3 linked regions of the Homo sapiens genome follow. The protein of the gene in region 1 interacts with the protein of each later gene in a pairwise test. Each region holds a gene or a part of one and is shown in the gene's direction. Other genes may lie near its edges.

What was found.
Region 2: the proteins of EMX1 (region 1) and PRDM4 interact in a two-hybrid assay, tested with the Homo sapiens proteins (one large-scale study listed by BioGRID and IntAct).
Region 3: the proteins of EMX1 (region 1) and GTF2A1L interact in a two-hybrid assay, tested with the Homo sapiens proteins (one large-scale study listed by BioGRID and IntAct).

The regions. Positions count from the first base shown.
Region 1 is NC_000002.12:72,924,008-72,927,662, forward strand, and holds part of EMX1 (homeobox protein EMX1), read left to right. Parts: intron 1-301; coding exon 302-486; intron 487-3,655. UniProt on the Homo sapiens protein: Transcription factor, which in cooperation with EMX2, acts to generate the boundary between the roof and archipallium in the developing brain. May function in combinations with OTX1/2 to specify cell fates in the developing central nervous system.
Region 2 is NC_000012.12:107,751,037-107,754,691, reverse strand, and holds part of PRDM4 (PR domain zinc finger protein 4), read left to right. Parts: intron 1-582; coding exon 583-768; intron 769-2,482; coding exon 2,483-3,277; intron 3,278-3,655. UniProt on the Homo sapiens protein: May function as a transcription factor involved in cell differentiation.
Region 3 is NC_000002.12:48,673,306-48,676,960, forward strand, and holds part of GTF2A1L (TFIIA-alpha and beta-like factor), read left to right. Parts: intron 1-3,655. UniProt on the Homo sapiens protein: May function as a testis specific transcription factor. Binds DNA in conjunction with GTF2A2 and TBP (the TATA-binding protein) and together with GTF2A2, allows mRNA transcription.

The DNA.
Region 1 (3,655 bases):
CACGCCTCGTCCGGCCTGCCCCATCTCTTGGCTTAACAGAGGGATCTGGAGAGCTGTTATTCCCCGCGTTCCCCCGCGGAGTGGCTCTCGAGTGCGGGGAGGTGTTGCGGAGGGGAGTGGACTTAGGGAAGGGGCGGCAAAAGGGCAAAGGGAGAAATGGCGTGTGTGTGCGTGTCAAGGAATGGAGAGGGCAGGGCGCTTGGGAGCAGGGCGCGAGGCCAGGCTCTGTTGGGCCCCGGCTCACGGCGCCCCTTCTCTCTGTCTGTACCTGCGTGTGTTGCCGTCGGCGGCGGGGCCGCAGCCAGCGACGTGCCCCAGGACGGGCTGCTTCTGCACGGCCCCTTCGCACGCAAGCCCAAGCGGATCCGCACGGCCTTCTCGCCCTCGCAGCTGCTGCGGCTGGAGCGCGCCTTCGAGAAGAACCACTACGTGGTGGGCGCCGAGCGGAAGCAGCTGGCCGGCAGTCTCAGCCTCTCCGAGACGCAGGTAATCACCCCCGGTCGCGGCCTGCCCTGCGCCCGGAGCCCGGGTGGAGGTGAGGGTGCGCGGGTGCAGGAGAGGCCCTGAGCCCGCCCCAGCCCAGCCCTGCTGGGTTCCAAAAGGCCCCCATTCCCCGCGGCGCTGCGGTCAAGCCCGTCTTTAGAGCCTCTTCCTCGAGACTGCGTGCAGCCTGCTGAGCCCGCAGGACTTTTGTCAAGCGCTAAAGACCTAGCAGGAGGCAGAGTAAATGCAAACTGTATCCCGAGCCCGGCTCCCAAAGCTCCTCACGGGGGGACCAGGTTCCCTGGAGGAAGCGGGTCGCCTCGGGAGCGGGCAGCGCAGGCAGCACCGAGGCCACTGGAGCTGGCTCCAGCCCTGGCATTCCTGCAGCCCTTTTCCCGCCACTGTGTCGGGGCGCTCATAGTCCTGCGGGGAGCCGGTCCGCACTGGCTTTGCTGCTGTTCCTGGGCAAAACTGGCGGGGCCTTGGCTGCCCACCAGCCAGGAGCGTCTGGGGAGAAAGCCCAGGTGTCCTCAGACTACCAACAGAGGGGCTTAACCAGGGAGGGGCCAGCCCCTGCTTGGGGCCCGAGGGTTGCTCTGATCCGGCCCAGGCCGGCTGATAGGGCTGTGGAAGCCACGGTGTGCGCGCGCAGAGCATCTGAGTGGCCTGGGCCTGGTGGGAAATAGACCCCGGGTACTCAGGTGCTTCTCTGAATCACTGGAAAGGCTGTCGAATGGGAGAAGGAATAAACTCCAACGGCGCCTGGGCTTGAACTGAGTGAAATTAACAATTACCGTGTAGTGTTTTTGTAACTGATCGTTAATTTAAGGGAAAAAATTAAAGAATTAGATGAAAGTTATAGGGAGGTGGATTTGGGTTCATTGTAAGTAGACTTTGCCATAAATAAATGCTGCCTGGGATCACTGCATAAGCTCTTGGTCCACCCAGGTCCGACGTGTTGGAGTGGGGCTCAGCGACCCTCAGCCTAGCTGCTGCCCTGGAGGTGGATTTCAGTCTCTGCGTGCCGGCCGGCTCCCAGAGTTGCGAGAGGCCGGCTCCGCGGTCTCCCAGCTACCTCCCGGCTGACTTTTCACCTTCCGCTCCCCTTTCCTCCTAGTCTCGACCCTACTACACCACCGTCCCCTCCCAAGTCCCGGGCAGTGAGAAGATGCCCGGCATGGGGGGCAGCCGGAGCCTCCCTTTAGCAGCCAGAGTAGGAAGGGGGCTTAGTGAGGGAGCCCAGACCCAAACTTCATCCGCAGCTTTCTTCGGCGGACCTTACCCTCTCCTCCTTCAGTGGCATTTTGGCATCTATTGTCGTCATATCTGTCTGCTGCCCCACTTAATCTACAAATCGCTCACGGGTCGGAGGCAGGACCCGTGCGTTTTCAGATGTACTAGCTGGGCTGTTCTAACTGCAGGGAAAAAGCTTACAAAACAAGAGTTAATTTTAAAAACGTTTCAAAGAAAGATGTGTTTTTAAAAATAAGTTAATAAAATAACACTCCCTTTTCCCTCCTGGCAGTGTTTTAAAATTATTGTTTGAAACAAGGTGTCAGTTTAAGAATGGTGTTTATAATTAACTTCATTTAAACAGTAATATTTATTAAATTTTAATTGCAGAACTGTAAGAAAACAAAAATGGTTTTTAATCCTACCACCCACAGATTAACACTTGTTGAAATAATGTCATTGTTTTTAAACTTTCAATTTTTTAGCTCAGTGAGAGCATTTTTAATTAACTCTCTTTCAAACTGAACCTAGCTGCCTGTCAATATTTGCTCCTAACAATGCCAGTTAGTAAACGGACTGATTGTTTCTTTCATTTTTATTATGAGACATTTCAAACATATATTTAAAACAAAACCAGATAGAATAACATAAACGTATCCTGCTTCATTAACTATCAAAACTCAGGGCTAATCTTCTTCCCGTCTGTAAATGAGCTGCTTTTTGCATATGGTACAACAAAAAGAATGAGGGGAGGTTTGAGCCTGGGGAACCTGCCGTGGCAGCCTGTCCTTCCAGGTGAAGACCCTGAGATGGAGAGATGGTTTGGACAGAGCTTCCCAGGTGGGCAAACACGATTTTAAATACCTGCCTCCCTGCTAACTTACTGTGTAACCCTGGGCAAGTCACTTAACCTCTCTGAGCTCTGGTTTCCTCATTGAGAAAATAGTTGTTTAATGATTAAAGGTACCTCATATGAGCTCAAATAATATTAATCCCCATCCCTAGTCCCTTCCCTTTAAGGTAGTATGTCAGATTAGTAGCATAAGAAGATCCAAACCTGTGTGTCCTCTTAGTCCAGCGTTCTTCCTCCCTTATGCAGTTTCCGTCATCAACATTGCCTTTCTGTTGCCCTCATAACTTATCATACGGAGCCAGGCTATATAATTAGCTACTTCTCTATCCGCCTCTTGGTACTTACCAGGCAAGCTTACCTGTCATTTCCAGCTATCAGCTATTTGTCAAGCATCAGTCACCCCCAACAGCCCCCCTGCCATGCATTTCTACTGTTAATATCTGTATCTGTCTCCAGAGCTCTCTAATCTGTCCCACCCCGTAGCTGTTTTACATCTAGCCATATACTTCTGTCTGCTCTCATTAAACTGCCTCCCCAAAACTGGCTAATTTATATTTCCGATTTTCTATTAGTTATATGTTCTTCCTAACAATAAGAACTATTTACCCATTTGTTCATTATCTTTGTCATCTATTTTACCTTCTGTGTTTCCACCATTCATCTCAAACTTCATCTCCATAGAGCTATTTCGCAACTGACAAACAGTATATTCATATGTCTGGTAATGGTTATCTATTATTGGCTCTGGCTTTGTCTTCTCTCTGGGTCTGGGCCTCAGTTTCTGTATCTGTGAGATTGAATGACACAAATTCCAGGGTTTTTTCTAGTGCTGAGTTTCTGTGACTCCTCTACATTCTACTTCTCTGTGTTTCTGTATACTACCTCCTCCACATTCTCAGAGCTCACCACACAACCCCTGCCTATCATGATATGCATCAAACTTTGTTGTTATTACTTAATTATCTGCCATGTCCAAACATCAATCTGTAGACCAGCAGTATGCGTCTCTCAGGGAGATCTTAAAATACAGATTCCTGGGTTTCACCCAGGAGATTCTCTTAGGAAGTCCAGGATAGGGTGCAGGAA
Region 2 (3,655 bases), on another chromosome or scaffold:
ATTCTAAATTAAATATTTTGGCTGGGCATGGTGGCAATCCCCGCACTTTGGGAGGCTGAGGTGGGCAGATCACTTGAGGCCAGGAGTTCGAGACCAGCCTGGCCAACATGGTGAAACCCTGTCTCTAGCAAAAATACAAAAATTAGCTGGGTGTGGTGGTGTGTGCCTGTAATCCCAGCTACTCAGGAGGCTGAGGTAGGAGAATTGCTTGAACCCAGGAGGCCGAGATTGCAGTGAGCTGAGATCACACCACTGCACTCCAGCCTGGGCAACAAAGCAAGACTCCGTCTCAAATCAATCGATAAATTAATTAATTAAATATTTTTGTATTTAAGCGCAATACAGACAATTGGAGTATCAACTTGCCGGTTTAGAACTAACTTAAAAACTATCTTTGGGACTAAGACTACTTTCTTTAGGCTTATTTGTGGATATTTGCACATTATCTAAGGATGAAAAGGGCTAGTAGGTGAGATTTTTGCCCATGTGTAAAAACCTTTCTAAGAGTTTAGCCAGTGGTTGTAGTGAGAATTTTTAATTACCTATTTTCTTTTAACTGAGAAAAAAAATTTTGTTTTGTAGGCCTCCCAGTGGCAATTCCAAACCTGGGTCCCTCCCTGAGCTCTCTGCCTTCTGCTCTGTCTTTAATGCTACCAATGGGTATTGGGGATCGAGGGGTGATGTGTGGGTTACCTGAAAGAAACTACACCCTACCTCCACCACCTTACCCTCACCTGGAGAGCAGTTATTTCAGAACCATTCTACCTGGTAAGTGTTACAGTTACTTGAGATGTTAGAGAAAAAGAACGGCGCCAGCTTTTAAACTTTTATCCTGAAGATATGAATAACACTTTTTTCTGTTTGTCACTATTAGATATTAATCTCTAGGCAGGAAAAGTATCTTTGTTTATATTTATGTACTTTTCCTCTTAGAATGTGGCACATAACACATTAGTAATACAGTTTGACTAAGCTGAATTTCTTAATTGCACATAATTTTTCTTCTTTCTCCTCCAGTATCTCTTTCATTTGGTGTTTATAATTCTACAGCTATAATTTCAGTCAAGCACTATAGTGTCTTGTTATAGTGTCATGTTTTTTAAGTTCATTGAATTTTTATTCTGTTATAGGAGTATTATATGCTTATTGCGGAAAATTTAGCAAATAAGGGAAGGAACCACTCAGTCCCATCATCCATCTTTTTGGTGTACTTCCTTCCTGCCATTTGTTTTGGTGTATAGGTTTTTACCAATTTTCATAATTAAGACCACGGTTTCTTCTCTTGCTCTCTTTTTTCTTTTCTTTTTTTTTTTTTTCTTTTAATGGAGACGGAGTCTCAACTATTTTGCCCAGGCTGGACTGGAACTCCTGGACTCCAGTGATTCTCTCACCTCAGACTCTTGAGTAGCTTGGAATACAGGCACATGCCTGCCTTGAGACCATACCATATTTCATTTCTTTTTTATAAATAACTTTTTTAAAAAAAGAGATGGGGTTTTGGCATGTTGCCGAGGCTGGTCTCGAACTCCTGCGCTGAAGCCATCCGCCCACGTCAGCATCCCAAAGTGCCGGGATTACAGGCATGAGCCACTGTGCCCTGCCCAAGACCATACTTTCTATACGATTGTCTGTCTTTACTTTTTTCACTTTATCTTTTTCTCTGCTGTTACATGGGTATTTTCCTTTGCTGCTACGTGGTTTTCATAATTATCCTTTTTAATGATGCATTACTTTCTACTGAATGGGTATTTGATGGTTTATTATCTTTATTGTTGGACAGTTTGGTTTTTCCAGTTTTTATTACCATTGTAACTAATGCTCTTATGAACGTCTTTATGTATAATATTTACAAAATGGATTTAGAGAAGAGTACCTTAAGTGGAATTTCTTGTGCAAGAGGGTATTAACATTTTTGAGGCTCCTAATATATATGCTTCACAAAGAAGTTTTAGCAGTTTACATTCCCTCTGGCAGTTTAGTAAGTATCATTTCACCATATCCTCCCAAGCACAAGTGTTAATTTTTTTTTGTTTTAATAAAACAGGTACAATTGTGACTTGTATTAAATAGTTTGTGTTATGATAGTTTAATTATATTAAATTATATTTAATTAAGTTTTATTTTTCACATGGAAGATCTGTTTTTAAATCATTTTACCTTTTAATAATTAGGAGAGCAAATTTTACACCTTAGGACTCAGGAATTGCAACCATATGTATATTAAAAGCAGTGTTTTCGTTAGTGATTCCCAGTTAGCTTCAAAGGAACATAGTTAACTTTTTTAGGATTTTCGAGTTTTACAGGAAAAACTCAATTACGGTATATGTATGTTGCTATTTATAAAATAGTGTGTATCGATTAAATTAAAGAAGCAGGAGATTATTTGAACTTAGTTATGTTTGTAAGGAAATAGCGTCTAGTGCTTGGAATTCTTTAATAATGTACTAAAAGTCTCTGATATCTCATCTTTTCCTTTTCTCAGGCATTTTATCTTATTTAGCTGACAGACCACCTCCACAGTACATCCACCCTAACTCTATAAATGTTGATGGTAATACAGCATTATCTATCACCAATAACCCTTCAGCACTAGATCCCTATCAGTCCAATGGAAATGTTGGATTAGAACCAGGCATTGTTTCAATAGACTCTCGCTCTGTGAACACACATGGTGCCCAAAGTCTTCATCCCAGTGATGGCCATGAGGTGGCCTTGGACACAGCAATCACTATGGAGAACGTTTCTAGGGTTACCAGCCCAATTTCGACAGATGGAATGGCAGAGGAGCTTACGATGGACGGTGTTGCAGGCGAGCATTCCCAAATCCCAAATGGCTCCAGAAGTCATGAACCTCTGTCTGTGGATTCTGTGAGCAACAACCTTGCAGCAGACGCTGTAGGACATGGTGGTGTGATACCCATGCATGGGAATGGCCTGGAGCTCCCTGTGGTCATGGAGACAGACCACATTGCAAGTCGGGTCAATGGCATGTCTGACAGTGCCCTCAGTGACTCCATTCACACTGTGGCCATGAGCACCAACTCTGTAAGCGTGGCACTCTCTACCTCACACAACCTTGCCTCCCTAGAATCTGTTTCCCTCCATGAAGTTGGCCTCAGCCTAGAACCTGTGGCTGTCTCCTCCATCACCCAGGAGGTTGCTATGGGGACAGGTCATGTAGATGTATCTTCAGACAGTCTTTCTTTTGTATCACCTTCACTGCAAATGGAAGACTCCAATTCAAACAAGGAGAACATGGCAACCTTGTTTACAATTTGTGAGTGTGTTTAGCCTTTCTTTTTTGGAAATATTTGTAAAAAGGGCCACCATCCCTAACAAGTTAAGTCGTAAAGTTTGGCATTAAGGGAGTATAGAAAGCAACTAGACCTTGGAACTTTTCTTTGCCTTGGTATTGTCCTTTATATTAATGTGGTGCCTTTTCTTCAAGTAAGCCAAATGATATACATACATTTAGTTGGTTCTTAGAGCATCCTCCTGAAGAAATGAAATGTGAAGTAGTCATTTTTGTATTTTGCAGATAAGCTTAGCACATGCGGTAGTGTGTGCCTGTAGTCCCAGCTATTCTGGAGGCAGAGGCAGGAGGTTGCTTGAGCCCAGGAGTTTCAGGCTATAGTGTTCTGTGATCCCACCTGTG
Region 3 (3,655 bases), about 24 Mb from region 1:
CAAGAGAAAATCATTCAAATTTATTTTAACGTACATTTTACTGACACAGGAAACTTTTTTTTTTTTTTTTTTTTTGAGATGGAGTCTGGCTCTGTCGCCCAGGCTGGAGTGTAGTGGCGTGATCTTGGCTCACTGCAAGCTCCGCCTCCCGGGTTCAAAGGATCTTCCTGCCTCAGCCTCCCAAGTAGCTGGGACTACAGGCGCCTGCCACCACGCCCGGATAATTTTTTGTATTTTTAGTAGAGATGGGGTTTCACCGTGTTAGCCAGGATGGTCTGGATCTGACTTCGTGATCTACCCACCTGGGAAGTGCTGGGATTATAGGTGTGAGCCACTGCACCCAGCCGACACAGGAATATTTAGAAATGAAGACCCAAAGAAACAGGGAAAACTATTTTTCTGGACAGTCATACCGAAGTATGATAGGAGGAAAAAAGGATATGATCTAATGACAATAAACTGGAGGAAACGTAGTAAGGCCTGTTTGTTCAGATTTTTGTGTCTCTGTGTCTTCAGAGATAAGGACACTTATTTTCCTTTGTGTATAGGGTAGGGACCTCTGTAATAAAGGTTTTATGACTTACTTTAAAGGAAGGTCAGATAATCCTTTTATGGCCTGGTTCAGGGGAGAAGGGTGAGGGCAAGGTCAGAAAGACTTTCCTGCTTCTGCCATTTTTTCAAATGTCAGGATGCCAGAACACATATGGGGTAATGTGTTCTGAACCCCATAGATACCTTTTTGCTGCTATGAATAATGCCTCTATGAACATTTGGGTACAGGTTTTTGCGTGGACATATGTTTTCATCTGTCTTGGCATATACTCAGGAGTTGAATTCCTGGGTCATGTGGTAACAGCTTAAGGAACTATTAGACTATTTTCCAAAGTGGCTGTACTATTTTACATTCTTATTAGCAGTGTTCGAGGGTTTCAATTTCTCCACATCCTGGCCAGCACTGGCCATAATCCGACTTTCTAATTCTAACCATTCTAATGAGTGTGAAATGGTATATCATTGCGGTTTTGATTTGTGTTTCCCTGATAACTAATGCGTATTTACATATTTAGCCTTTTTTTTTTCCAGTCACAATTTGAATATATTTAGGGGGAAACAAAGAATAATGTTTTGAATTGCTGTAAAAAGAAATCTTTTTCTCTGAAAATAAGGTCACTTTCTCCACTATAACATTTTATACAAATAGAAAACCGCAATTTAGATGCTGAATACAAATATAAACATAAGAAGGAATAGGGGATAGAAAAGGAACAGTTCTTAGTTTGAAACTTGTTTTAGTTTCTTATAAACAATATATTGCCTTCTATAAAAAAACATTATAAGGTACTTAATTATATATACATTCCATAAAGTCTCATGCAGAATTTTCTAGACCATTATGGATGTGGTATCCTTTGTTTGCCGCAATGTGGGAGATACCTTGTAATTAATTATGTAGTACTTTGTATTTTTGCGGTGTTTTATCATATATTATCTTTTGTTTCTTATAATAACCTTATGGAATAGATAGAGGTGATATTAAATATACACTGCTAACAAATCTAGTATCTGAGAACCCTTCTACTTAGTGAATATTTTAAGAACAGTGGTAAAAAATTAATGGAAAGCAGGGCATTGGGGAACCATTGAAACATTTTAAAAGGGGAGTGATGTAGTCAGAAGATAGCCAAAAGAATGTATCTAAAGGTCAAAGTGGGGTGAGGAACACTGTTATAGTGAATCTTTATGAAAGAAAAACTTTCCAGTGCTGGTCACTGGTTGATTTGTTTCAAATAGTATTGAATGTAACCCAACTCAAGTGAATTGAAAGAACTTTCAGTAGTCTCTTTTAGAGCTTTACTAATTCAGTGTGTTTTATGGGCTTAGCACGCTTTTGTTATGCCACTCTGCTAACTTACTCAGCTTATTTTAAAGGCAGGTAGTATCAGTTCCTCTGGGAAACTATTACAAATGCAGAATCCTGAGTCCCACGCCAGAGTACTGGATAAGAATGTACATTTTAACAAGACTCCAAAATGATTTGTATGGCCGTTAAATTTTGAGAAGCAGTGTTTGGTTTCTTTAGTATATTTTATTTGGATTTGATTAACAGATGGAATTTATCTTTAAAATTTAGAGATTAACAATTGGGGGGAAAACTTTGAAAATATAAACATGTACAGTGCAAAAGGGCTAAATGAAGGCCACTGGTTTACATACTGGGTGAGAATTAGTTAAATGGTATAGATATTTTGTTTCAGAGGCCTAGAGAATGTCTAAAATTAATATAAGGATTTAAATAATAAAGATATTATAGCGAAAATTAATGGTGAAATGAAACCTTTTACTACAGATGGAGGTGTTCTGTGCTACAAATAGGACACTATTTATAGTGGAATGTGAAACCATTTGAATATCCTATATCTTCGTTTGACAGTTTAGCAGACTTGCTTATAGCTGACTTTATCCCTTAGATGCTATACAATGATTAATTTCTAGGTGTGTAGCATGGTTTCTTTATATATACAGAGAGAGATATGTATATATGTGTATATATAGTCTCTTTATATGTATCTATATATCTCTCTATATAATAGTCTATATATATGTACATTTCCTTTGAATAGATAGTGCATACACATGGTTAAAAAATCAAAATACTGTAAAAAGGTATACAATGAAAAGTCTGGTTCACATTCCTTCATCATTTTTGCTTTCTATTAGTAGCTCCTTTTCCTGTTTTGAATGCAAATAAGTAGTTATATTAGTTTTCATCGAATTTCTTTATTCAAATACAAATACAAAAGATAGCATAAATAACACTATATTCTGTACCTTGCTTTTTTTCTTTAAACAACGTATCTGTCAGATCTTCCCATATGAGGAGGCTTTCTTTGTGATGATATTTTAATGGCTGTATAATATCCTATTGTAGGATTACTAAAATTCATTTAACCAATCCTCTACTGATGGATATTTGTGATTTTTCAGTCTTTTGATTTGAACCACTATGTATATAAGACATTTTCATAATGTGTGCAGATATATCTATTAAATCCCCAGAAATGGGATTCTGGGTCAAAGGGCAAATGTACGTGGTTAGGTATTCCCAAAATGCTCTCTAAGAGCATTTTGCCATTGTGAAAGATGAAAAGTGATACCTTGTTGGAATTTTTAACTTTCCATATGTTAAAGGGCCTTTTGTATTTACATTTTGTGAACTGTTTGTTCATAATCTTTGTCTATTTAAAAAATTGGATTATTTGGTCTTATATTTAGTGATCTCTAAGAGCTCAATATTATTTTGGAGAAAATGAGCTTTTTGTTATACACAGAAGTACTTTTTACTCAGTTATTTTCATTGCTTTTTCTTTTCAATATGTAGATTTTGGATCTGTCAATCTTTAATTTTATGTCTTCTGCATTTTGAGCCATGAATAAAAAGTTCTTTCTTACCTCAGAGTTTTAAAGGGAAGCTCATGTTTTCTTCAAGTATTTCATATATATCTATATATCTATATCTATATCTATATCATCTATATCTATATCTATATCTATATACTCAAGTCTTGATTCATTTGGTGTTTGTCTTGGTGTATAATGTAACATATGGTTTCAACTTTTTATTTTTTTTTTTCCAGGTGGCTACTCAATCTTCCTA